7 linked regions of the Homo sapiens genome follow. The protein of the gene in region 6 purifies or fractionates together with the protein of the main gene of each other region. This does not show direct contact. Each region holds a gene or a part of one and is shown on either strand. Other genes may lie near its edges. The genes, in order: MPHOSPH9, WDR62, BTK, SEC16A, PTPN2, KATNB1 and TUBA3E.

What was found.
Region 1: the proteins of KATNB1 (region 6) and MPHOSPH9 purify together in Homo sapiens (tandem affinity purification; one large-scale study listed by IntAct). This does not show direct contact.
Region 2: the proteins of KATNB1 (region 6) and WDR62 purify together in Homo sapiens (tandem affinity purification; one large-scale study listed by IntAct). This does not show direct contact.
Region 3: the proteins of KATNB1 (region 6) and BTK purify together in Homo sapiens (affinity purification with mass spectrometry; 2 studies listed by BioGRID and IntAct, with this or other methods). This does not show direct contact.
Region 4: the proteins of KATNB1 (region 6) and SEC16A purify together in Homo sapiens (tandem affinity purification; one large-scale study listed by IntAct). This does not show direct contact.
Region 5: the proteins of KATNB1 (region 6) and PTPN2 fractionate together in Homo sapiens (co-fractionation; one large-scale study listed by BioGRID). This does not show direct contact.
Region 7: the proteins of KATNB1 (region 6) and TUBA3E purify together in Homo sapiens (tandem affinity purification; one large-scale study listed by IntAct). This does not show direct contact.

Annotation. Positions count from the first base shown.
Region 1 is NC_000012.12:123,205,642-123,209,141, reverse strand, and holds part of MPHOSPH9 (M-phase phosphoprotein 9), read left to right. Parts: intron 1-3,500. UniProt on the Homo sapiens protein: Negatively regulates cilia formation by recruiting the CP110-CEP97 complex (a negative regulator of ciliogenesis) at the distal end of the mother centriole in ciliary cells.
Region 2 is NC_000019.10:36,089,397-36,092,896, reverse strand, and holds part of WDR62 (WD repeat-containing protein 62), read right to left. Parts: intron 2,453-3,500; coding exon 2,377-2,452; intron 1,698-2,376; coding exon 1,586-1,697; intron 1,496-1,585; coding exon 1,432-1,495; intron 209-1,431; coding exon 86-208; intron 1-85. UniProt on the Homo sapiens protein: Required for cerebral cortical development. Plays a role in neuronal proliferation and migration.
Region 3 is NC_000023.11:101,355,192-101,358,691, forward strand, and holds part of BTK (tyrosine-protein kinase BTK), read right to left. Parts: coding exon 3,426-3,500; intron 3,247-3,425; coding exon 3,119-3,246; intron 2,393-3,118; coding exon 2,318-2,392; intron 1,765-2,317; coding exon 1,593-1,764; intron 1,078-1,592; coding exon 861-1,077; intron 1-860. UniProt on the Homo sapiens protein: Non-receptor tyrosine kinase indispensable for B lymphocyte development, differentiation and signaling. Binding of antigen to the B-cell antigen receptor (BCR) triggers signaling that ultimately leads to B-cell activation.
Region 4 is NC_000009.12:136,462,541-136,466,040, forward strand, and holds part of SEC16A (protein transport protein Sec16A), read right to left. Parts: coding exon 3,422-3,500; intron 2,023-3,421; coding exon 1,880-2,022; intron 1,201-1,879; coding exon 1,139-1,200; intron 1,062-1,138; coding exon 923-1,061; intron 593-922; coding exon 347-592; intron 1-346. UniProt on the Homo sapiens protein: Acts as a molecular scaffold that plays a key role in the organization of the endoplasmic reticulum exit sites (ERES), also known as transitional endoplasmic reticulum (tER).
Region 5 is NC_000018.10:12,811,238-12,814,737, reverse strand, and holds part of PTPN2 (tyrosine-protein phosphatase non-receptor type 2), read left to right. Parts: intron 1-382; coding exon 383-535; intron 536-3,500. UniProt on the Homo sapiens protein: Non-receptor type tyrosine-specific phosphatase that dephosphorylates receptor protein tyrosine kinases including INSR, EGFR, CSF1R, PDGFR.
Region 6 is NC_000016.10:57,752,770-57,755,256, reverse strand, and holds part of KATNB1 (katanin p80 WD40 repeat-containing subunit B1), read right to left. Parts: intron 2,480-2,487; coding exon 2,329-2,479; intron 2,181-2,328; coding exon 1,990-2,180; intron 1,869-1,989; coding exon 1,738-1,868; intron 1,313-1,737; coding exon 1,262-1,312; intron 328-1,261; coding exon 260-327; intron 139-259; coding exon 19-138; intron 1-18.
Region 7 is NC_000002.12:130,195,640-130,199,682, reverse strand, and holds the start of TUBA3E (tubulin alpha-3E chain), read left to right. Parts: upstream 1-1,243; 5' UTR 1,244-1,322; coding exon 1,323-1,325; intron 1,326-3,311; coding exon 3,312-3,534; intron 3,535-4,043. UniProt on the Homo sapiens protein: Tubulin is the major constituent of microtubules, a cylinder consisting of laterally associated linear protofilaments composed of alpha- and beta-tubulin heterodimers.

The sequences.
Region 1 (3,500 bases), on a different chromosome or scaffold from region 6:
GGCCAACATGGTAAAACCCCATCTCTACTAAAAACCCAAAAATTAGCTGGGCGTGGTGGCATGCACTTGTAATCCCAGCTGCTCAGGTGGCTGAGGCAGGAGAATCACTTGAACCCAGGAGGTGGAGATTGCAGTGAGCCAAGATGGTGCCACTGCACTCCAGCCTGGGTGACAGAGCGAGACTCCGCCTCAGCAAAAACAACAACAGAAAAAAGTGGAATTAAAAATTCCACTTTTAAAAAATTCTGGCTGGCTTGAGCTGGGCATCATAGTTTACACCTGTAATCCTTGTACTTTGGGAGGCTGAGGTGAGAGGATCACTTGAGCCCGGGAGGTCACACCATTGCACTCTAGCCTGTGTGACAGAGTGAGACCCTGTCTCAAAAAGGGAAAAAAAAAATGCTGGTTAGTGTTTTGTGAAATTAAATGGATTGTGCCTACTATTTCATATGTAGTAGGTCCTCAGCTATTAATTTCTTCCCCTTTTCCCAGAATTGGTGTTGATTTTTCATTTGTTACACCTCCATTCATTTTCATTTGTTATGCGATCCATTTCCACCATAGTTATGAGCAACTTAATTTGCTGTATTCTTTTTTTTTTTTTTTTTGAGACAGTTTCACTCTGTCGCCAGGTTGGAGTGCAGTGGTGCGATCTTGGCTCACTGCAACCTCTGCCTCCCGGGTTCAAGTGATTATCCTGCCTCAGCCTCCCGAGTAGCTGGGTCTACAGGCACATGCCACCACGCCCAGCTAATTTTTGTATTTTTAGTAGAGACGGGGTTTCACCATGTTGGTCAGGATGGTCTCGATCTCTTGACCTCGTGATTTGCTTGCCTTGGCCTCCCAAGTGCTGGAATTACAGGCATGCACCACTGCGCCCGGCCAATTTGCTGGATTTTCTTTGAGTAAGAAAGGTACATTTAAAAAAAAAATTTTTTTTTTTTTTTTTTTTTGAGACGGAGTCTCAGTCTGTCACTTAGGCTGGAGTGCAGTGGTTCCAGGTTCAAGTGATTCTCCTGCCTCAGCCTCCTGAGTAGCTGGGATTATGGGCATGCGCCACCATGCCTGGCTAATTTTTGTATTTTTAGTAGAGAGGGAGTTTCGTGATGTTGGCCAGGCTGGTGATCCACCCACATCAGCCTCCCAGAGTGCTGGGAATACAGGCGTGAGCCACTGCGCTGGCCCATTTTTTTTAAATTTAAGAGCAAAGAAATAAAACTATTCAGTAAATGTACATCAATGTACCTATTTCACCTCTGTATTTTTTTTTTTCTTTTTTTTTTTTCTTTGAGGCGGAGTCTCGCTCTGTTGCCCAGGCTGGAGTGCAGTGGCGTGATCTCAGCTCACTGCAATCTCTGCCTCCCAGGTTCAAATGATTCTCCCACCTCAACCTTCCAAGTAGCTGGGATTACAGGCACCTGCCATCATGCCCAGCTATGTTTTGTATTTGTGTAGAGACAGGGTTTCACCATGTTGGCCAGGCTGCTCTCGAACTCCTGACCTCAGGTGATCCGCCCGCCTTGGCCTCCCAAAGTGCTGGAATTACAGGCATGAGCTAGTGCACCCGGCCTTCATTTCTGTATTTTGATCAGGTAATGAAAGAGTACCTGGGGAAAAGGAGAGATACTATTAAAGTAACCAAGAGACATAAAAATGAATGACATATACAGACAGACAGATGGGGCAATGTACTTGTAAGCATCAGAGTCTCAGTGACGGAAACCAATGTTCCGTACTTCATGAAAGGAACAAAAAGACACAGGTCAACACAGAGAAATGAAGTATGAGGGGGGTAAGATTGTAGGGGGCAAGGCAGGCTTAGTAGGCTTTGCAATTGCAGGGCTCACAGTGTTATCTGATCTTGAACATCAGTAAGTGGATACTGCATTTTGTTGACTCTACGGTATTGTCAACTTTAAGGTTTCCCATTTCATGTTCTACCAAGAAAAATTTATAAATTAGACTGATACAATGCTTTTTTTTTTTTTTTTTTTTAACCACTTTAGAATTTATATTTTATTCTTATGGAAAGAGTCTTTAGACTTAAACATAGGTTTTATTATGTATCAGTAACTTTTTTTTTTTTTTATTAGAGAGAGGATTTTTGCTGTGTTGCCTAGGCTGGTCTCAAACTCCTGGGCTCAAGTGATTCCCCTGCTTTGGTCTCCCACAGTGCTGGGATTACAGCTGTGAGTCACTGTGCCTGGCCTATTATATAACTTTTTTTTTGAGACGGAGTCTTGCTCTGTTGCCAGGCTGGAGTGCAGTGGTGTGATCTCGGCTCACTGCAACCTCCATCTCCTGGGTTCAAGCGATTCTCCTGCTTCAGCCTCCTGAGTAGCTAGGACTACAGGCATGCACTACCATACCCAGCTAATTTTTTTGTGTTTTTAGTAGAGACGAGGTTCCACCATGTTGGCCAAGATGGTCTCGATCTCCTGACCTTGTGACCCACCTGCCTCAGCCTCCCAAAGTGCTGGGATTACAGGTGTGAGCCACTGTGCCTGGCTTATTATATAACTCTTATGCATACTTTAAAAAGGAAAACATAAGTGAAATAAAAGTGGCTAAAATTCTTTCCTTCTCAGAGTGTTATACTCTTCTCTTCTCATCTCTTCTCTTCTCTTCTCCTCTCCTCTCCTCTCTTCTCTTCTCCTCTTCCTCTCTTTCTCTCTTTCTTTCTTCACGGTCTCACTCTGTTGCCGAGGCTGGAGTATAGCAGCTTCATCATAGATAACTGCAGACTCAACCTCCTGGGCTCAGGCGATCCTCTTGCCTCAGCCTCCTGAGTAGCTGGGACTACAGTCATGTGCAACCACACCTGGCTCATTTTTTTTTTGTTTGTTTGTTTTTAGTAGAGGCAAGGTCTCTCTATGTTGCCCAAGCTGGTCTCTCAAACTCCTGGACTCAAGCAATCCTCCTGCCTCAGCCTCCCAAAGTGCTGGGATTACAAATGTGAACCACTATGCCTGGCCATTTCTCTCTCTTCACCTTGGTGTTAGTTTCTGTGTTTTCCCACGTTATCTTCCTCTAGCCCACCAAGAGCATCAGCGATTCTGCATTTCTTTAAAAAGAATAGAAAGGCCTTTCTGCTTTTTACCTGTCTTAGTAGCATGTAGGACTAGCCCGCTTTGGACTCCCATGTGGAGTATGTTGCTAAACGTGTCTGATTCACCGTTCTCTTAAATATTGGTCCTCAGGAGCTTCATTGTAGTGTGTAGGTTTGTCTTCCAAGCTGCTGATACCTATTTGGCCAATTTTGAGCTCATGAGCAGGGAATGACAGTCTGTCACAACCACAACTTGGCCCAAAGCAATAGCAATTATAAAATGCCATTAATTACAAGAGGCATCCCTACTTTAGAGATGTTAACATGACAAGAACATAAAAGTGGTGAAAAGTGGTACTTTTCTATTCCCATGAGCTTTGAGTAGAATAACCCCAACTATTCCCCCAGACCACCAGGCTGTGGCCATAGCTGGAGTAATGCTACTCTTCAC
Region 2 (3,500 bases), on a different chromosome or scaffold from region 6:
TGGCCACCACTGTGTCCCCAGCATCACTCCATGGGGCCCTGGCAGGGACTCATCCCTCTGGTGGACAGGCAGGGGCTGCCAGGACCTGGGGTGGCCACTCCGCTTCTTGTCATTTGTGTGCTGCTGCTGCTGCCGGTGGTCAATCTCCAGCAAGTGCTGCTTCATGCAGTTGGTGATCTCCGGGCCCAGGTGCCAGATGAACACGCAGCTGCGGAGGTCAAAGAGAGACACACAAGGCAGAGGAAGAGTAAGCATGGGAGCCGCTGCCGTGGCTGACCCTGAAGCCACCCACACCACAGCCTGGACCCCATTCTCCAGATGCTCCTGGAAAACACACCCCTATCCGCTTAGTGCAGGGGTGCTGGACTTGCCACATCCACACCCTGGGCCCAGGTCTGGGGCATCCCAGCAAACCAGGGCCTGTTCTGGAGGCCTCAAGACCTGAGGAAGGGGGCTGTGGGGAAGAACTGGGGTAAATCAAAGGGAGTGACAAAAGGGACTTCCTTGAGTACCACCCATGTGCTAAAGAATGTATGTATATCATCTCATTCATTTCTCACCATACAATTTTCTTTTTTTTTTTTTTTTGAGAGAGTCTTGCTCTGTCACCCAGGCTAGGGTGCAGTGACGCGATCTCAGCTCACTGCAACTTCTACCTCCCAGGTTCAGGTCATTCTCATGCCTCAGCCTCCCAAGTAGCTGGGACTACAGGCGCCTGCCACCACGCACAGCTAATTTTTGTATTTTTAGTAGAGACACAGTTTCTCCATGTTGACCAGGCTGGTCTTGAACTCCTGACCTCAGATGATCCATCCACCTAGGCCTCCCAAAGTGCTGGGATCACAGGCGTGAGCCACTGCGCCCGGCCTCATCACACCATTTTTAAGGTAAATGTAAACGGTGGTGTCTTTTACAGGGGAGCAAACTGAGGCTCAGGGGAAATAACCTGCTCAAGGTGACAAGAAAATAAATGGCAGAGCTGGGATATGTTTTTTTAGTGTTTTGTTTTTTTTTTGAGACGGGGTCTTGCTCTGTCACCAAGGCTGGAATGCACTGGCATGATCTGTGCTCCCTGCAACCTCTACCTACCAGGTTCAAGCCATCTTCCCCCTCCTGAGTAGCTGGGACTAGAGGTGTACATGACCACACCCGGCTAATTTTTTGTAGAGATAGGGTTTTGCTATGTTGCCCAGGCTGGTCTCGAACTCCTGAGCTCAAGTGATCCACCCGCCTCAGCGTCCCAAAGTGCTGGGGTTACAGGCGTGAGCCATCATGCCCAGCTTAGAGCTGGTATTTGAACTCAGGGCTGGGTGTGACACCAAGACTCCCACAATCCAAACTGGGCAGTTTAGAAATGCTCTCTACACAGGCAGGCTGAGTGCAGTGCTCATGGTATCTGAGCCACAACTCTCCCAAAGGTCCATGTCCCACCTGTCTCCAGATACTGTGATCAAGTGATGACAGTCATAGGTGAACTTCATGCTGGTAATAATTTCTGCAAACAAAGCAGAGAGGCTGCACTTGCCTTCGGAGTCAGAGGGTGTGGGCGGGTGGGGAGGCATCCCAAGCAGAGAGGCACACCCACCTGAATGGCCAAACATCTTGGCAATGCACTCGCCCGAGTAAAAGTCAATCACTGAGATGCTTTTGTCAGAGCAGCTGGTGGCCAGGAAGGTGCCTGAGGGGTCCACATGGACCTGCCAGGAAAGGGACCCACATGTCACTCCAGCTGCCTGCTTCTTCCTTATGATGAGGCCTGGGCCCCTCCCTCCCCCGTGCTGCATGCACAGCACATGGGACTCTGGCAGGGCAGGAGCTCCCGCTCCCATTCGACACGTGAAGAAATTAACAACCACCGCAGCAGTAACAACAGTAGCCAGGCCCTGTGCTAAGCACTGAACATGTGCAAACTGAACTCCTCCAGAGAACAAGTCTATGAGACAAGCTGTCTGTGTGCATTTCAAGAGATGATGCTTGCCCAAGGTCACACAGTCAGCCTGAGGCAGAACCTGAACCCATAACTGTCCTAGACCAGAGGCTCTGAGAAGGTCCCCCCTTGTCCTGAGTGACCCGTGGCTGGTGTGGGCAAACCAGGAGGGGAGTTCATGCCTCTGATTCTTCCCACCATACCCTGCTGCCACTCAAAATGGAACCCACTTAGACGCCCCACTTGGGGAAGGGCTCTGTAAATAAAGGAAACACAGCTGGGGTCACCCTCCCCACCCTCTCGCAAGCATCCTTGTTTAACCAGGCCTGAGAAGGTGCTGGGCAGCGCGGTGCACTGAGGAAGGACCAAGGGCACAGGTCTCAGGTGTGGGCCGTCACAATAGGTGGCCCATCAGGGCAGCAGACAGACAGGGGTCTCCAACTCCTCACCTTCAGCAAGGACCCTTCGTCACCCTGGGAGCCCTTGTAGCACTTCTTCTGCTTCCCGTTCACAGTGTTGTAGACTCTGGGGAAGTAGGGGCATGTTGCGGCCAACAGGGCCCCGCCTACCCCACCACCTCATTCTCTGGCTCTTGCTGTCCTCCCCTCCCCTGGAAGCCCCCTGCTACCTCTTGTCCCCATCTGATGCCTAGACTGAAACTGAAACCCCATCTCAAGCTGAGGTTGTCCTGGGGTATCCACTGAGTTAATGTTCATCTCCCCCACACACTGCAAGCTCAGTGCTTGGCACCGCATGAGAAAGAACTGGGAAGGGGTGCAGAGCCTCTTTGCACTGCTTTGCCCTCTGCACACTCACTCTCTGCCTCCCCCTGGCTCGCTCCTCCACATCCTCCCCAGGCTAAGGTGTCTCTTCCTCCAGGAAGTCCTGCTTGATCCGCAGGTGGGGTCAGGTGTCTCCACAGGGCCCCTGGGCTCCCCCATCTCTGACCACTCTGTCACTGTCTGTGGCTGTGAGGTGGCCGTGTCCATTCTACTGGACTGTGAGCTCCATGAAGGAGGGCCTGGGGCTATCCTGGCCACTGCCATGATCCCAGCACCATCCAGCCCAGTTAGGTGCTCAGGGAATACGGGTGAATGAGGGAGTTTATGTGCCACATCAGCACCTTAGTCATCCCACACCGGCTCTAGGGAGAGCCAGAAGAAAGCCCTCTGCTGACCTGGAGGCCAGGCTTGGGAGAGCCCAGCTTCTAAGAAATACCTGCTGGTGGCCGGGCACGGTGGCTCACGCCTGTAATCCCAGCACTTTGGGAGGCTGAGGTGGGCAATATCACCTGAGGTCAGGAGTTCGAGACCAGCCTGGCCAACATGGCGAAACCTCGTCTCTACTAAAAATACAAAAAATTAGCTAGGCATGGTGGCAGGCGCCTGTAATTCCAGCTACTTGGGAGGCTGAGGCAGGAGAATCACTTGAACCCAGGAGGTGGAGGTTGCAGTGAGCTAAAATGGTGCCACTGCACTCTAGCATGGGCAACAGAGCAAGACTCTGCCTCAAAAACAAAAACAAAAAAAAACCAAGAAGGAACACCTGCTGGGTCCCTCAATTCCTTCCCAGC
Region 3 (3,500 bases), on a different chromosome or scaffold from region 6:
GCTTGAATCTGGGAGGCGGAGTTTGCAGTGAGCCGAGATGGTGCCATTGCACTCTAGCCTGGGCAACAGAGCGAGACTCCATCTCAAAACAAAACAAAACAAAACAAAACAAACAAAAAACAAAGAAGGGAGAATGAGAAGTAAGTTTTTTTGCTTTCTGCTTTTCTGCCAGTGAGACTAGGACAATTTGAGCCTTGGCCTGACTGAAAGAAACAGGGGCGCAAACTCTGATGCTTACAGGGGCCAGGCAAGTTAAGTAAGAGTGAAGTGAAGTGGATCGAGATTGCAGGAAATGGAGAGTACATGCCTAGAGGAAAGGAGGCGGTTCGTGAGAATGTGGACCTGGTATTTCCAGACGGTGTAGATTTTCAAGAGAAGCTGGAAATTCCAGGGTTTTTTTTTTTTTAAGCGAAATGTTTCTTTTTAAGGGTTTGCTAATTATTATATAACATAAAAAAAACCCACACATGTGGGCCAAATGCATCCACAGGCCCCAGTATGTGACTCTGAAGGAACCAAATGATGGCCCCATGCCAGGAGCAGTCCCATTGGGAAGCACAGTCCCTTCTGTTCCAAATCCAGAATGGCCACTGAAAGACCCCACCATTTTCTTGTGGGTGGTAGGGGGTTGGGAGTGAGTGACTGCTCTGATTCCCACCACGGCAGACTTCATGGAGCTGAGGCTGGAGATATTTGATGGGCTCAGCACTGGGGCAGAGGCACGCCTAACTTATAGTACTTTCTAGATAAAATTGAAATGATGGCACCAGCAGCCCCCCTCAACCATGTATGATATATCTTCCACTGCTACTTCCACCCCATCAGCCCTTTGTCCTAGGCCAATCCTTCTAAGGTCCCACCAGGTCTCGGTGAAGGAACTGCTTTGACTCCAGGTATTCCATGGCTTCACAGACATCCTTGCACATCTCTAGCAGCTGCTGAGTCTGGAAGCGGTGGCGCATCTCCCTCAGGTAGTTCAGGAGGCAGCCATTGGCCATGTACTCAGTGATGATGAAGATGGGGCGCTGCTTGGTGCAGACGCCATACAACTGCACCAGCTTCTCATGGGAAAGATTCCTACAGGAAAGGCAAGGAACTAGTCTTCTCCTTTTGGCTCTGCATAATAGCAATAAAGGGGCTGGGGAGGAAGGGGCTGACCTAGGAGTAGAGCATCAGATAAGGGGTCACACCAGCAAGTTTATTTTCCTCTTTCCCACCCTAAATCTCAAAAGTGCTTAAAATGTGGAAGCAAGCAGGGATTTGGAGCCCATCAATTGAAAAAGAAACAAGTCCAGGAATGAAAGAACGCTAAGGCTAAATTAGAATATTTCTCTTGAAAGTTTAATTTTCTACATCTACCCCCAAATGCTACTGAGATGGTACACACCCATGATCACCACTATTCTCAACCAATATCTAAGGCACAGAAACTATTATCTTAGCACTTAGGACTACCGCCAGTTAAAGGTAAACTTCAGTCCCTCGTCCCAAACCTCTCTTACTGTAAGTCATCTTTAAGCCTCAGTGGGTTGTTGTGTGAATTCCTAGACTCCAGCAAATAGATTGAGAGTTGAGTTTGGGCTATAACTCACATCATGACTTTGGCTTCTTCAATGAATTCATCTTCAGACATGGAGCCTTCTTTGATCATCTTGATGGCCACGTCGTACTGGCCTCTCCATTTCCCATACTTCACTACCCCAAATTGTCCAGTCCCCAGCTCCTTCAAGAAGGTCAGGTCCTTTGGATCAATTTCCCATGATCCTAACAATAAAGTCTTGGTGTGATTCTTTGGGGTCATGAATGTATAATTCTTACAATAGACAAAAATCCCTACTGGGGTAGAAATAGGAAAACTAGTAAAAGGGAAATTTTTAGAAGTACTAATCTGTCTTTGCTTAAGTCAATCTCAGAAACGGGATTCATTGGTTAGAGGAATCTGGGAATTTTAGGTTCAAGGTGGCCATAAGGCAAGAAGATAGACTAAGCAACCTCCCCAAATCCCTTTATGATTATGTTAGTGATGGTAGTTAATGAACTCAGGGATAGTACTGAAAATTTTCCCACAATTAAAAATAAAAGACAAAAAGACCCAAGACAACGACAAAGCCCTTTATGAATCTATGTTTTTGCAGTCCCAGTCGTAGCCACTAGAGGAAGAAAATCAGTGAATAACTTTTGCTTGGATCTGTCTTGAGCGTCCTTGAGGCAGCTGCTGCAGAACAGTGTACCTCAAGGACACTCCCTAAGGCAAGGCCAGCAAAGGTAGTTTTTGCAACTGGCCAGTCCACCCTACCCCAGAGAAATAAGGAGTTACCGTATCCCAGGCCTGCAGTGGAAGGTGCATTCTTGTTTTGTTGAGACACTGGATATTTGAGCCTGGATATGAGTCCTGAAACAGAGAGAGAGGTCATGCTGTTGGTGTGGTGTAGGAGGTGGGATGCCTCACACATCCTCACTTAAAGCCTCACACTTCCGGTGTGTATCTTTCTAGTACATTTTGAATCCCAGAAGACCTCCATGAACCCACATATTTCCAGAGGTTTCTCCTCTCACAAAATACTTTTCAGGGACAAAAAAGAGAAAATACTAATTGAAATACACTGCCTAACTGAATATATTCCCACCTCCCAGCCCAGGCTTAGCTCACATCCTACCTTCTTGATGAAGCTGTTCCCCCATATCCATGCCCTCACTAATGTCTCAGTTTTTAGAAATTTTACAGTGCTTATAAACTTTCTTCTGATGTTGTCTAACCTGTATGTTCTTTGAGGACAAGGACCTCGACTCAGAATGTTCCCGTGTTCTCCTCTAGAACTGAGGAAATCGCTGAGTACACAGTAGGAACTCAATGAATACTTGCTGATGAATCAGTCACCAGCCTCTTTTGTGTCTTCTCTTAACACTGAACATCAATCACCAAATAAAGAGTCAGTCCCTGTTGGGTGTAGGTCTGCCTCTGACCACCTCTTTACCAGCTTCTACCCAGTATCACAGGGATTTCCTTTCACAGTGAATTCACACTGTCCTGTGAGGCAGATTCTTCCTCTTATCACCTTGTCCTGCATTGCTTATCCTGGTGTCTGTAACTCCCTTCTCAGTTGCCCCTGGTACTCACCTGCAGAGTTGTGCTGATGGTAGTTAATGAGCTCAGGGATGGTGCTGAAAAGGTGCTTCTCAGCCAGGTAATACTGGCTCTGAGGTGTGGAACACACAACATAATGACGTATCACCCCTTGAGGGTCCCTGAAGAAGTGGATGCTTAGTCAGTAACTTGGGCACAAAGGTCAACAGAACCCAGGAAGTGAAGTGAGATGAGTTTTGAGTTTCAGAGACAGAGGAAGTGGGACGGGCACAGCATCAAGGAGCTATTAGGAGGGTACCCCTGTTCTTTGTCCTCAGGGCCTTGGAATAGTAGCACTCACCCTGTGGATTTAGCAAACACAGACACTGTATATTTGCCAGCTTTGCTGGAGTCTCTGACAATGAAACCTCCTTCT
Region 4 (3,500 bases), on a different chromosome or scaffold from region 6:
TTTGTGAGAATGCCACAACTTGTGTCATGCACATTTCATCCGAGATTTGGCACACACAGCAGGGGCACGGCCTGTGCTCAACATGTGCATTTATCGAATAACTGAAAATTTAATCTGCAGGTCTCCAACACTGGAAACAGTTAGAAGGAAACCAACATTAACACCTCCAGAAGGATGGCATACAAGAGTCAGGCATTGTTCAGGAAACAGCAAGACCCGAAGCCCCACACTGCAGCGCGGATGCTCCCAAGAGGGGGCCACGTCCCTCCCTGAAGGCTGCAACCCCGCACCAGGCCCGACCCAGTGGACATGTGCAGGCGCCAGGTGCCATGATGAGGAGGCGCACCTTCTTACGGCCATACAGCAACAGCTCCCTGAACCTCTCGGTCTCTCTCTCGAGCGAGCTGGCGGCAGCCGCCGGACCACCAGTGAGGAAAGAGAGCTGGGCCTCACCAGACTCCTCCTCTTCCACCTGCTCCACTGCCTCATTCGTGAAATCAATCAGGTTTGCTTCATTGGGCGACTTCCCAGGAAGCCACACTGTTCTGTGGTCTCGTAACAGAAGCTCCGCAATGTCGGTCCCTACCACGGTCTGTTTGGGTCAACAGGAACAGGAAGGAGAACAACGGCTCTCAGGTGAGGACGCGTTGGACCACCACAGGCACAAAGCCCCACCCTGGACACAGCCAGACCCACAACTACCCGAAAGGCTGGCAAGGCTGGGCTGAAACCTCATCCCATCCCAACCGCACGTTCCCTCTCCCTCCCTACCCAGCCACTACAGTGTGCTTCCTAAGGGGGCCCTCGAGGCTCCCATAGCTGGCCACGCGGATCCCGCCCTGCTCCTTCGGGAGGCTGAGCATTCCCAAGACGAAATGAAGACCAGCAAGAAGAAACACTCTAGAAGTAGAAAGAAACATACCCCATTTTGTCTGCATAAGAGAACAATAAAATTCCAAAGAAGACTTGCAGACTCTTTGTCAATTAAGTTTTCATTCTGCAAACATTTCATAGCTTTGTTCTGTGCAAAATTAATGACATCCACCTTATGGGTGTCGTCTCTGCAGAAAGAACACACAGTGAGCAGTGATGTCTGCAAGGCCGGGCTCACAAAGAAATGCCTCAACAAGGAACATACTTGGCCAGGGGTCCCGGGAACGCCCGCATCTCCTCCTGCTCAGACGTGTGCTGCAGCAAGGCCTACGAGGAGAGGGCCGTGGGTCAGTGGCAGCCAGTGCGCAGCCACCCTGCTGGCAGGCCGGCCAACCCAGGCACGGATGCTGCCCGTGAGAGGAGAGGATGGCATGGCCCACCTGCCCCGCCCCACAGCAGGTGAAGGCTCTGTCGAGGCTGTTACATGGAACATGGCCTGTGTGGACCACAGCCATGATTTCAAACTTTATTTTAAGTAGTGAAATCCATTTTCTCTCCCCAAATACTGAGGCAGAACCCCAATACATGTGACAGAAGCCTGCAGAAGCTGCAGGAAGAGGCGCATGCCAGCCCCCGTCACCTCGGCAGCGCCGTGCACGTCCACCCCACCCGCCCCCCTCACCTGGGCAGCACCGGGCCCACCCACTGCATCTATCATTGAAAAGCACCAATAAAGCAAACATCCCCAAAACGAGGACAGAAAATGCATATACAATCAAACCACGTTGAACACCCAAGGCAGACGCTTACAATACTGACTTCTAGGAGGAAAAATATATGATCAAATAGAAGAAAAACCCTACAAATTGAAAATTCACAGGAATAAACATTTTCCAAGGACGTATGTCCAGAGACAAGGTCTGACAATTGAAGATGACAAACTGCAAAGCAGAGAGTTCCCCAGGGCAGCAGAGCAGTGACGCCACGCTTCTGCGTGTGCCATTACCTCCATGCTGTGGACCTCCACCAAGGCCGGCTGTCCTTCTGAAGGCAGATTGGGAATCACTTTGATAAGCTGACCGCCAGGGCCAAACCTGGCACAGACATGAGGCACTGAAAATTTTTCAGGAGAAGTTGGTCTTGATGAAACTGCATTTAAAATAAATTGAAAAAGAAACAATCAGCTTGTCACTGATGCTTCTGAGCCTAGATTTTCAATGTGCTCACACAGCTTAAATCACAGGTTAGATTTATCACGACAGACTTCCAACTCAAAAGTCGGTAATTGTTTAATATCATACTTAAAAGTAGAACTTCAGCATACGTCAGGAAAAGAAAAATGTCTGAATCATTAAGCATGAAAGCTGTTCCCTTGTACACTGAGAAAGCTCCCGCAACACCCTCATGAGCCGCCCTGAGGCTCCTGCCACGGTGCGTAATCCTCCCAGGCCTGGCCCACTCCCGAGCTCTTCCATTTTCACAAAATCAAATTCAGACTGCGATGACCACACAGCACCCAGCAAAAAGGACAGCAAAACACCTCAAGCAAAAAAGAAAATAAGGAGCCAGGCATAGTGGTGCATGCCTGTAATCCCAGCACTTTGAAAGGATCCAAGGCAGGAGGGCCACCTGAACCCAGGAGACAGAGACCATGACCGTGCCACTGCACTCCAGCCTGGGTGACAGAGTGAGACTCTGTCTCTTAAAAAAAAAGAAATGAAAAAATGTTAACTGAAACAATACTTTAAGAAAGTAAGGCCGGGCACAGTGACTCACACTCTAATCCAAGCATTTTGGGAGACCGAGGAGGATGGATCACTTGAGGTCAGGAGTTTGAGACCAGCCTGGCCAACATGGCAAAACCCCATCTCTACTAAAAATACAAAAATTAGCTGTGCATGGTGGCAAACACCTGTAATCTCAACTACTCAGGAGGCTGAGGCAGGAGAATCGTTTGAACCCGAGATGCAGAAGTTGCAGTGAGCCAAGATCACATCACTGCACTCCAGCCTGGGAGACAGAGTGAGACTCCATCTCAAAAAAACCAAAAAACAAACAAACAAAAAAACTCAGCCTACCATTAAATTCTGTAACTTTATATCTTTACGTATATTTCTGCAATTTGCCAAGAAAAAGCATTTGAGCATCCTGGAAGGGAACTCTGACTGACACGCGGGACAACTGCAGGAGCGGAGTCTCCAAGGGGAATGAGCAGCTCCCTCCTGCACGCCTGCTGAGCCACGGGGTCTGCGATGGGGATGTGATCAGGGGCTGCCCAGAGCCTGGATATGAGCTGTCCTCAGAGTCACACTTTAAAACGCATGTCGGGGCAGGCAGGGCAGCTCTCAGGCCTTAAACCAAACTGCAATCGAAGAGACAGCATCGGCCCGTCCTGACACACCCTGCTTCTCGGAAGGACGGATTGGGTCAGAGCCAGGCCAGGACATCACAATTCCAATCCCAGCCCTGACTCCCGTGTTCAGATGCCAGGCTGGGTGGCCGCCCCAGTGGGGTTAGCCGGTATCCCTCTGTCCTGCTGAGCACACACCTTGCTCCATGGCAGGCCAGACGGTGTCGGCAGGGTAGCCATACTCTGGGAAGCCGGGGCCACTGCTGAAATTGCTGCG
Region 5 (3,500 bases), on a different chromosome or scaffold from region 6:
AAGGGGAATGAGCAGAAAGGTTGACTCCTGCCATGACTTTTAAAAAAAAAAATAGTCCTTATACTAGCCAGAACTGGTTATAAATCCTTCCTTTAACCAATGACTGGCCAGAAGGAATGAGATTACTATGATTGGTTTGGAATCAGTTGTGAATCAGCTAAAGAATCAAAGTCCTCCAACTACTTGAGGGGTTGAGATGTGGGGAGGGATGAGTAGGCTGGGATAGTTGTTGTGTACATAACAGTTATAGCTGGAGGGTTAAATTATCGTTGTTCTTTCAGAGGAGAAAATGCATAGCAAAAATCTTAGCAATGATCTTGCATTGATTCTGTTTCCTGGGTTCCAATAACAAGACTTGTCTCATTTTTTGCCTTTCTTGCAGATGGAAAAAGGAGATGATATTAACATAAAACAAGTGTTACTGAACATGAGAAAATACCGAATGGGTCTTATTCAGACCCCAGATCAACTGAGATTCTCATACATGGCTATAATAGAAGGAGCAAAATGTATAAAGGGAGATTCTAGTATACAGGTAAACTTCATACAGGTTTTAAATCATATCTATTTGTTAAATACACATAGCATCAAATAACTGCACTCCACTTGAGCCCTTGTCTTTGTTTCAAAGAGTGTATTTGAATTTTTGTGGTAAATCCAGCTGGCTGTCTTAAAATTGTAAAATTTTAGCTAGCTTCCTCATATATACTCAGCCTCAGGTTAAATCCTGTGTGTTACTTAAAAGCCCTTGTAGAAACAAGATTTCATTAAAGAAACTGAATTTTTCATTTTGGGGGTGGTTAATCTTTTAATTATTAAAGTAACTGGAAACTTGAGATACTTTTGCCTTCATTAAACACTGATACTTGGTTTATGTGATATTTGACTTTATAACAACAAGCAACTTGAATATTTATGGCAGATATAATGAAATTCCAGCAAAATGTTATATTCTTCTGGTTGGTGGCTTTATTCTCATTAAGCTATTTTTACTGCATATTTGTAGAACCTAAGTTCAAAGACTGATCAGAAACTTGTGTTATGTACTAAGTTAAAATGTAAAATAGAAACAACCACAGACTCCATTTTTTGTCTGGTTTAATCACATAGTATTGGACATAAGCAGATACTGTAAGTTGATGCATAATATAAGAAGATCGACTGTCTTTTCATTATGTTTCTCATGTGTGAACATATTTACTAGCACTTTCATTTCTCTGATTACTAGCCAATATAAGAATGTAAATTAGATCGGACCATTGGTGTCAGAATAAAGGTTTATTTAAAAAGATTTTTTCCAAATCTTTAAATAGCATTAAAATATTCTTAATGCACAGAAACATTAGGGCACTCAGAGCCAAAATACGCAATGTTTGGGAAACTCAGCCCATTAGAACATGTCCTGCTTCAGACGCCAGACTTTGGGAACACTGGATTTGCCAGGGTCACTTTGGCAGTGATCAGTGATTTAGGTGAAGTAAAAGTTATTTCAGATGTTTAAGATTAGGAAAATTTCCCTTTCTAATCACAGTGAGCTTTCACCAACTTAAATCTGGAGTTCAAAAAGAAAAGTAGTTCAATCAGATTTCCCCATGCCTTCACAGCCTGCATGCCGCCTTCCCTGCCTGCTTCCTGGCTGTGATGAGACGGGTAACTGGGAGGGAAATGTATTGTCCTTTGGATTGTGTCTTTCCTACCACTGCTTTTTTTTTTTTTAAGTTTTGTGTCTTTAGTTTTAGAATACATACTTTATCTGAGGGTGGATCTTTTTTTATCACAGAGATGAGTTTTTCTGGACACACTTTTTTGTGGAGTCTTTGACAGTGCAGTTTGTGGCTAGGAAGGATTTTTTTTCTGTTAATTTATCTGGTGTGATATTGTCCTCAGGCTCTCAATTCTAAGGCATTTTCTGCCCCTATTCCAGATAGGATATTGGAAACATCTTTATCCTTCAGGTACTCAGGATCAGAAAAGCATGCTGCCCATTCCAAGGGGTTAATTTCTGCAGAAATGGTCTTGGCATTCTGAGAATCTTTTTTAATTGGTGCATTTAGACCATCGGCATATGAAGTGATTACTGATAAAGTTGGATTAATAAATACATACCACACATGCTACTGGTTTTTTTTTCTTTTTTTGAGACGCAGTTTTGCTCTTGTTGCCCAGACTGGAGTGCAATGGCACAATCTCGGTTCACTGCAGCCTCTGCCTCCCAGGTTCAAGTGGTTCTCCCCACTCAGCCTTCCGAGTAGTTGGGATTACAGGTGCCTGCCACCACTCCTGGCTAATTTTGCATTTTTAGTAGAGATGGGGTTTCACAGTGTTGACCAGGCTGGTCTCGAACTCCTGACCTCAAGTGATCGCCCACCTCGGCGTCCCAAAGTGCTGAGATTACAGGCGTGAGCCACCGCACCCAGCCCAAAGTGATTGTATCTTAAGTCTGTAAATATGTGTAATTATAATCTTAAAGCATGTATTCATTTACAGAAAACTTCCAATGACTTTGACATTCCTATAGACATATAGGCTATTTGCAATTGCCTTTCAGCACAAGGTCAGGCATAAATACTTAAGCTGGTTGCTGGTATTACCACATATTTATTAGCATATTCCCAGTATTGATGATGACAGTTAACCCCCCAGAGTAAATATCTAGTTTGGCAATTCAGAACTAATGTTGTAAGATCTCTAGCTGGTAATTTGATATTACTAATAAAGTATTAAATGTAAATGATAAACTTTTAACAAATTACAGAGGATTTGAAGTTTAATTGCATTGCTTAAAGCTTTCTTCAGTGAGAGAAATGGGTAGAGCTAGGGTTCTAGGCATTGTGTGGGGGGCATGGCTCCTAGTGGCAGTGACTCATGGGTTGGTGCAACGTGAGCACAGAATTAGAAAGAAAGATGAAACAGTACCAGGCCTCAAAATGAGAGCTCCTTTGAGGTTATAGTTTAGTGAAATGTAATTCCTTGGCTTCACCAGTCAGCATTAATGACCTGAGGCAGGTGACTCAGGAGTGCTGGCTCCCTTGTGTGTCACAGGGAGGACAGAGACGAGTGAGTTTGCTGAACCTATATAGGCATGAGTGAGTTTGCTGAACATAGGCACGAGTGAGTCTGCTGATCATAGCCATGAATGAGTCTGTCGAACATAGCCATGAGTGAGTTTGCTGAACATAGCCATGGCAAAATGACATTGTTGGGTTTGTGGGGTTTTTTTAATTCACTAGCATTAAATATCTCTTTTATTTCTCTCTCTGCCGAGTGCTTTCCTTGTTGACGTATTCTGAATTTGTTGCATATTCTGGGAAGTGGTCCAGTGAGACTTGATTTTTGGTGTCATCTTATTTGTTGACATTGTTGAGTGTTGTCCAGCTATAAGGCCAAGTTACATAACTAGGTCTCAGTCAAGAGTGGAAACTTCAAAAATTGACCAGTGTAAATTCTGGAGACAATTTAACATTTTTGTGGGGTACTTTGTTGAACACACATCTTTATAA
Region 6 (2,487 bases):
AGCTGGGCTCCTACTCACGGGCAGGAAGTCGGAGGCCTTCAGCCCGATGGGCTCGTTCCGGGTGGCAGGGATGATGGCAGGCTCAGCCTTGGGTGCAGGTGTGGAAGCAACCACTGGGGGCCGGGGCAGGACCTCCAGCTGAAAGTGTGAAACTCAGCGGTTGCCGGCCTGGGGCCTCCCTCTCTGCCTCCCGAGGCACCCCCAACCCTGGGTCAGGACCTTCTCTAGGCCCCACACCATGCTCCCTCCATGGACATACATTTGGCACCGGGAACTGCACATCCATGGCAGGGCTGGGCTTTGCTGCCTCCTTTGCTGTGGCTGCGTCTGGAGGCAAAAGGAAAAGATGACTGGGTCCGGCCAGAAGGGCCTGGCAAGAAGGGCAGGGCTCAGGGCGGGACTCTGGGCAGCATCTGCAATGGGGGGATGGAGCAGGAGCATGGGGGAGGCTGCAGGCCAGTGGCGTGGGGGTTCCAGAGGACCTGGGGCAGGCCTGGACCTGCCTCCTCCCTCTCCCCCAACTCAACCTTAGGTCTGCCTGTGGGTGGGACCCAGGGGGCTCTAGGATGTGGCCATCCTGTCCCTTCACTGGCATGTATGTGGAGGGGGCTGGGATGACTGGCAAGATGGAAGTGGAGGCTCCTAGGAAAGCCAGGACTGACGGCAAGGACGGTCCCTGAGGGGAGGGCAGGGGTACTCTACAGGACAGGTGGCCCCATGCCTGCCCGTTCTCCAACCACAGTGCAGATCATTTTTCTCCCTTCTTAATCCAAACCCCCAGCTGAGGCCTTGTGGGCCTGACCTCTTGCTGGGACTCGCCCCAGCTCACCTCCTCTCAGCTCCCTTCCTGCCAGAAGCACTTCTCTCTCTCTCTTCTCACTGGCCCCCAGGCCTTGACAGGCATTGGGCCTCCTGAGAGCCTCCCGATCATCCCGTCTACAGCAGACCCCATCTAAGGTGGGCCCCCAGTGACTCCTCTCCATCCTCCACAGCCCGAGTGCCCCTGGCAGGCCCCCCAGTGTGGTGGTGTCCATGTTTGTCCCCCACACACCAGGGCACAGGCTCCTACGGGGGCACTATCGGTCTTGCAGGGACCTGGCACATAACAGGCAGAGGGCAGAGACCCAGCGGGAGAGGGTGTGGGTCGTGTCCTGAGAGGGGAGGGTCCTGGGAAGGGGCTTGTTGGGAGGGTTCACAGGAAGAGAAGATGAGGGACGGGGGGGCATCAGAGACCTTGGGAAACCAGGCTCACCCAACTCACCGTCCTCTGGGGGTGCAGGGAAGGGCTCACTTCTCCGGGGTGGCGTCCGACCTGCAGAGGAAAGAGGCCCCTGGCTGTGAGCGCTCCTGGCCAGGCCACCTGGGACCCAGGGCCCTGTCCAGAGTGCGGGGGACGGAGGGTAGCTCCCAGGCATGCGGCTGCAGACTGTGGACCCTGCTCCTGGTCCCAGGAACCCTCAGTCCTGCCCCTCCCAGCCCACTTGTCCCTGGCAGGGCAGGGACTGGGACACTGAGCAGCTGCTGGGCCGCTGCTGGGGAGTGCCCAGGCCCCCCTCTCAGTTCCATCAGAGCACAGCCTGGCAAGGCCCAGGGAACGTGAGGACAGGATACGGAGCCCAGGTGTGGGTTAGGAGGAAGTTAAAGGGATGCGGAGCCACAGCAGGCTACCCTGGAAGGACCCCCAGCCTCCCTTTCACCGATGGGGACGCTGGGCTGGGGGCGGGAGCCCGGCCTCACTGATGCTGTTCTTGGGCTGGAAGATCTCGTTGTAGTCCTCGGCGTTCTGGATCTCCGCGCGGGACTCGCGCTCGTCCCGGTCATCCTCGCTGCTGGGGCTGCGGCGCTCGCTCTCTGAGTTCTGCTTCACCCTGGGAGCGTGAGGCCAAGCCCAACGGAAGCAGGTGCCCTGTGAGGCCCAGGGCTGGAACTCCGAGGCTTCCCCTGTGACAGTCCCTCTCCTGGGCCCCCGAAGGCCCCCCAGGCCCTCACCTCTGAGGCTTGCTGCAGGTTGTGCTGGGCCGCTCATAGATGCGCCGGAGGGGGGCGCTGGGGTTGGGCAGTGGCTGTGCCAGGGGCCGGTGGTCCTGCACAGGGTCCCGGGCCACCGTGCCAGTCCTGGTGACACGCGTCAGATCCACCACGTAGGAGGAGACGTTGCTCTGGGAGAAGGCCACACCTATCTGCAGAAAGCGGAGAGGTGGGGCTGGGACTGCAAGCCGAGGGGGCAAAATCCCAGCCCCAGTGTGGGGGTAGGAGGAGGGGCCTGGGCTGGAGGGAGGCGGGTGGCCCTGTGGGAGTGGGGGGCGGTGGGTGCCATGGCTCTCTCACCAACTGGTCATTGCAGATGGCCAGGTCGGCCACCTTGCCCCAGTTGACGAGGACCACATCAAAGCACCGCTCAGGTTCCCAGCCGTAGACACGCAGTGAGTCCTGGCAGCCGCTGTACAGGCAGCAGCCGTCTGGGTTGAAGAGGACGCTCCTGGGCCA
Region 7 (4,043 bases), on a different chromosome or scaffold from region 6:
GGTAAACAACTTAGGAACTGCCTCTTCTTTTCCTTTAAAAACCCACTTATAACTGCTGCTAATATTTTAAGACAACTTGCATCTCCAGGGTTGCACTTCTCAAACTTGGCCCAAATAAACTATTTTTTTTTTCAAGATGGAGTTTTGCTCTGTCACCCAGGCTTGAGTGCAGTGGCGTGATCTCAGCTCACTGTAACCTCTGCCTCCCGGGTTCAAGGGATTCTCCTGCCTCAGCCTCCTGAGTAGCTGGGATTACAGGCGCATGCCACCATGCCTTGCTAATTTTATTTTTTGTAGAAACGGGCAAGGTGGGACTCACCACGTTGCCCAGGCTGGTCTCGAACTCCTGACCTGAAGCAATCCTCCTGCCGTGGCCTCCCAAAGCACTGGAATTACAGGCATGAGCTGGTGTGCCTGGCCCAACCTCTCCACTTACGTTAATTTTGCCTCCTTTCTTCCTTTTTTTTTTGAGACAGAGTCTGGCTCTGTTGCCCAGGCTGGAGTGTGCTGTGGCCCAATCTCGGCTCACTGCAACAACTGCCTCCCAGTTTCAAGCGATTCTCCTACCTCAGCCTCCCGTGTAGCTGGGATTACAGGTGCCTACCACCAGCCAGGGTAATTTTTGTGTTTTTAGTAGAGATGGGTTTTCACCATATTGGCCAGGCTGGTCTCGGGAACTCTTGACCTCAAGTGATCCACCCGCCTCGGCCTCCCGAAGTGCTGGGATTGCAGGCGTTAGCCATCGCGCCCGGCCCGTTTTCTCCCTTTGGGTCAGAAAAGTGATTGAATCCTGCCACTTCCCGGGTGCTGGGTGGGAACAGGGAAGAGGGGGATAATTGCGGTGCTGCTGTGACTTGGGTAGATGGCGGCAAGGCCTCTCAGAGGTGGCCTTGTTTGCAAAGATCTGAATTAGGCAGGGAGAGGAGCAGGCCTGGGGCAATCAGGGAGGGGCAGTGGCACACTGGGAGCAAGGCAATGTTCCGCGACCCACAGAGGCAGCGCAGTAGCTGTTCCAATCCTGGTCGGAAGACACCCCGGAAATGCCTCAGCAACCGCGCAGCCTTTGATGACCCCGCTGCCTTCCCGCCAATCCTGCATCCAATCAGAGAGCATCCCCACTACACGTGTTGAGCAACGGCCAATCAGAACTGGGATCCGGCCCTCGGCCTGCCTCCCAGGAACTCCGAGCCAATGGCGGCCTGGCACCGGCAGGCCAATCCTGTGCGGCGCGCGTGGGCAGGTCATTGCAGTTGGGCGCTCAGCAGCTGTGGCAGCCGGTTGAGGTCTGGAAGTAGCGTTGGGCTGAAGCAGCGGAGTTCGCCATGGTAAGACCCGGGTCACTCCCGCCCCGCAGATGCCCAGGCAGACGAAGTTGGCCTCGGGTGGACAGAGGGACGTTGTTGCGGGCCTGGGCGCTGAGAGGAGGCCAGAGAAGGACGCAGGGTCTAGTGCGGGACAGGAGGACACGGGATCGTTTCCTGGATCTGCAGGTCCCAGGGCAGGGACGGCGGCTTTTGTTTTAGATGAAGCTGCCGGCCTTTAGTGGACGGGGACCATTGACGGTATCCCGTCCCCCAGAGAGCAAATAGTGGCGTCGCCTCCTGAAGACAGGAGGGCGCTGCTCCCGCTTCACACGTCTTTGTGCTACTGGAAACAGCTGAGGAGCTGCAGGAGCCTTCGGTGACGGGGGTTGGGGCTGTGGACATTGGTCAGATGAGGAATTAAGGCTCAGACGCTGCTGCAACATTGCCTTGTTCACCTAAAGGCAACCGTTAGGCCAGGCGCGGCGGCTCACGCCTGGAATCCCAGCCCTTGGGGAGGTGGAGGCGGGCGGATCCCCTGATGTCTGGAGTTCAAGATCAGCCCGACCAACATGGCGAAACCCAGTCTCTACAAAAAAATACTAAAATTACCCGGGCATGGTGATGCGAGTCTGTGGTTCCAGCTACTCGGGAGGCTGAGGTGGGAGGATCAGCCGAGCCTGGAACTTTGAGGCTGCAGTGAGTCGTGATGGCGCCAGTGCACTCCAGCCTGGGCCACAGAGACCCTGCCTCAAAAAACCAAACAAAAAAAGCAGCCCATTAACATAACAGATTCCCAAGTCCCAAGTCTGAATAGCTGTGATTTGTCAGTTATCCTTTTTTTCCTTTCTTTTTCTTTTTTCTTTTCTTTTCTTTTTTTTTTTTTTTTGAGACAGCACTCAATAAATGCTCTGTTGCCCAGGCTGGAACACAGTTGCAAGATCACGGCTCCCTGCAGCCTTGAACCCCTGGCTTCCAGCAGTCCTCCCGCCTCAGCCTTCCGAGTAGCTGGTACTACAGGTGTGTGCCACCACACCTGGCTAATTTGTAAATTTTTCATAGGGACAGGGACTCACTATGTTACCCAGGCTGGTCTCAAACTGGTCCCAAGTGATCCTCTCACCTCAGCCTTCCAAAGTGCTGGGATTACAGGAATGAGCCACCACACCCAGCTTGGCAGAGTTTAAAGAAACCACCAAAGGACAGTGCAGTGTCCCAGCACTGATGATGTCTGGGAGCCATTACACCCGTAGGCTTCAAGGGGTAGAGAGAGGGCGTGGTTACAAGAAATTAGGAGGGTAGTTTTATGAAGAGGGCAGCCTGCCAAAAGTGTAGCCTTGAGAGGGATTCAGGTCACCCACAGCAGTTGAGCAGGAAGGGGCCAAGGAGGGAGTACCCTGGCACTGCTTTCCTCCAGCCCCCCAGTATCCCACTGCTGCCTGCCATTGACCAAACCAGCAAGAAGCCAGAGGGCGAGGAAGGCCTCTGATGCTGTTCTCAAGGGTCAGCCTTCGAGAGCACAGAGCAGGTGGTGAATGATGGACGGGGTAGAACTGGGGGGCAGAGAGAGGACACACACTGAGCACCTGGGCTTGGACCATGGTGACCTGGGACCTACTCTGTATTTCCTTACCCAACCCGACTACCTTATCCTTTGATCAGGACATAATCAAAAACTGCTACTTATTCTTCAGAGAATTACTGTGACGGGCTATAATGTGGGGTTGATTATTGACATTAAATGGCTTCCAAGTTTTAAAATAACCTAAGTTTTGTGTAGTGGCAAACAGGTTCTAGGGCTACTTCTAGAACTTACTAGCTAGTATGGTTTACAGCAATTAGTTTTCACAGCGATAAAGGGATCAGTCACTAACCCTCCTAGGAAATATCGATTGTGAAAGCGCCAGATACTGAAGCACTATATAAATATTAAATTAGAATATTTTGCATGCCATATAGTTTCAAGTTGCCTTGAAATGAATGGGTTCACATTTATGTTCCGGTTCACAGCGCGAGTGTATCTCTATCCACGTGGGGCAGGCGGGTGTCCAGATCGGCAATGCCTGCTGGGAACTGTACTGCCTTGAACATGGAATTCAGCCCGATGGTCAAATGCCAAGTGATAAAACCATTGGTGGCGGGGACGACTCCTTCAACACGTTCTTCAGTGAGACTGGAGCTGGCAAGCACGTGCCCAGAGCAGTGTTTGTGGACCTGGAGCCCACTGTGGTCGGTAGGTGCCTGGGCACTGGATGGCAGCTTTCCTGAGAGGGTGGGAGAGCATTGGTAAAGCCCCGTGTGGGCTCCTTTGAATCCTCCTGCTGAAAGGATGGGATAGACAGGCATATGCCCATGGCATTGTTAGGAGAGAAACTGAAAGGTTTGTGATGAAAGTGTCTGTGAGACTCGGCTCCTAATTTAGGAAAACCTGACCTACAGGGAAAAGCTGCTTTGCCAGCAGTAAGATGGGCTGTGAAGAGATTCCCTCATGGCTGCCTCAGCCCTGCTCAGGTGGCCCTGCCTGCAGGGTGCAGTGGCATTGGTTCCCTCCCGAATGCTGTGCATTCTCTTATGCTGGTGCACGAGAGTCTTGACCTGCATCTTAGGCATAGAAGGTAAGTACAGAACAGTCATTTGCTTCCTTCAGATTCGCAGCCTGAGGTAGTTTCCAAGGAGAGCTACAAAGAGGCAGCACCTTTCAGTGGCCCCCCAGGAGATGACAGCATCACCTGAAAGCCTGTG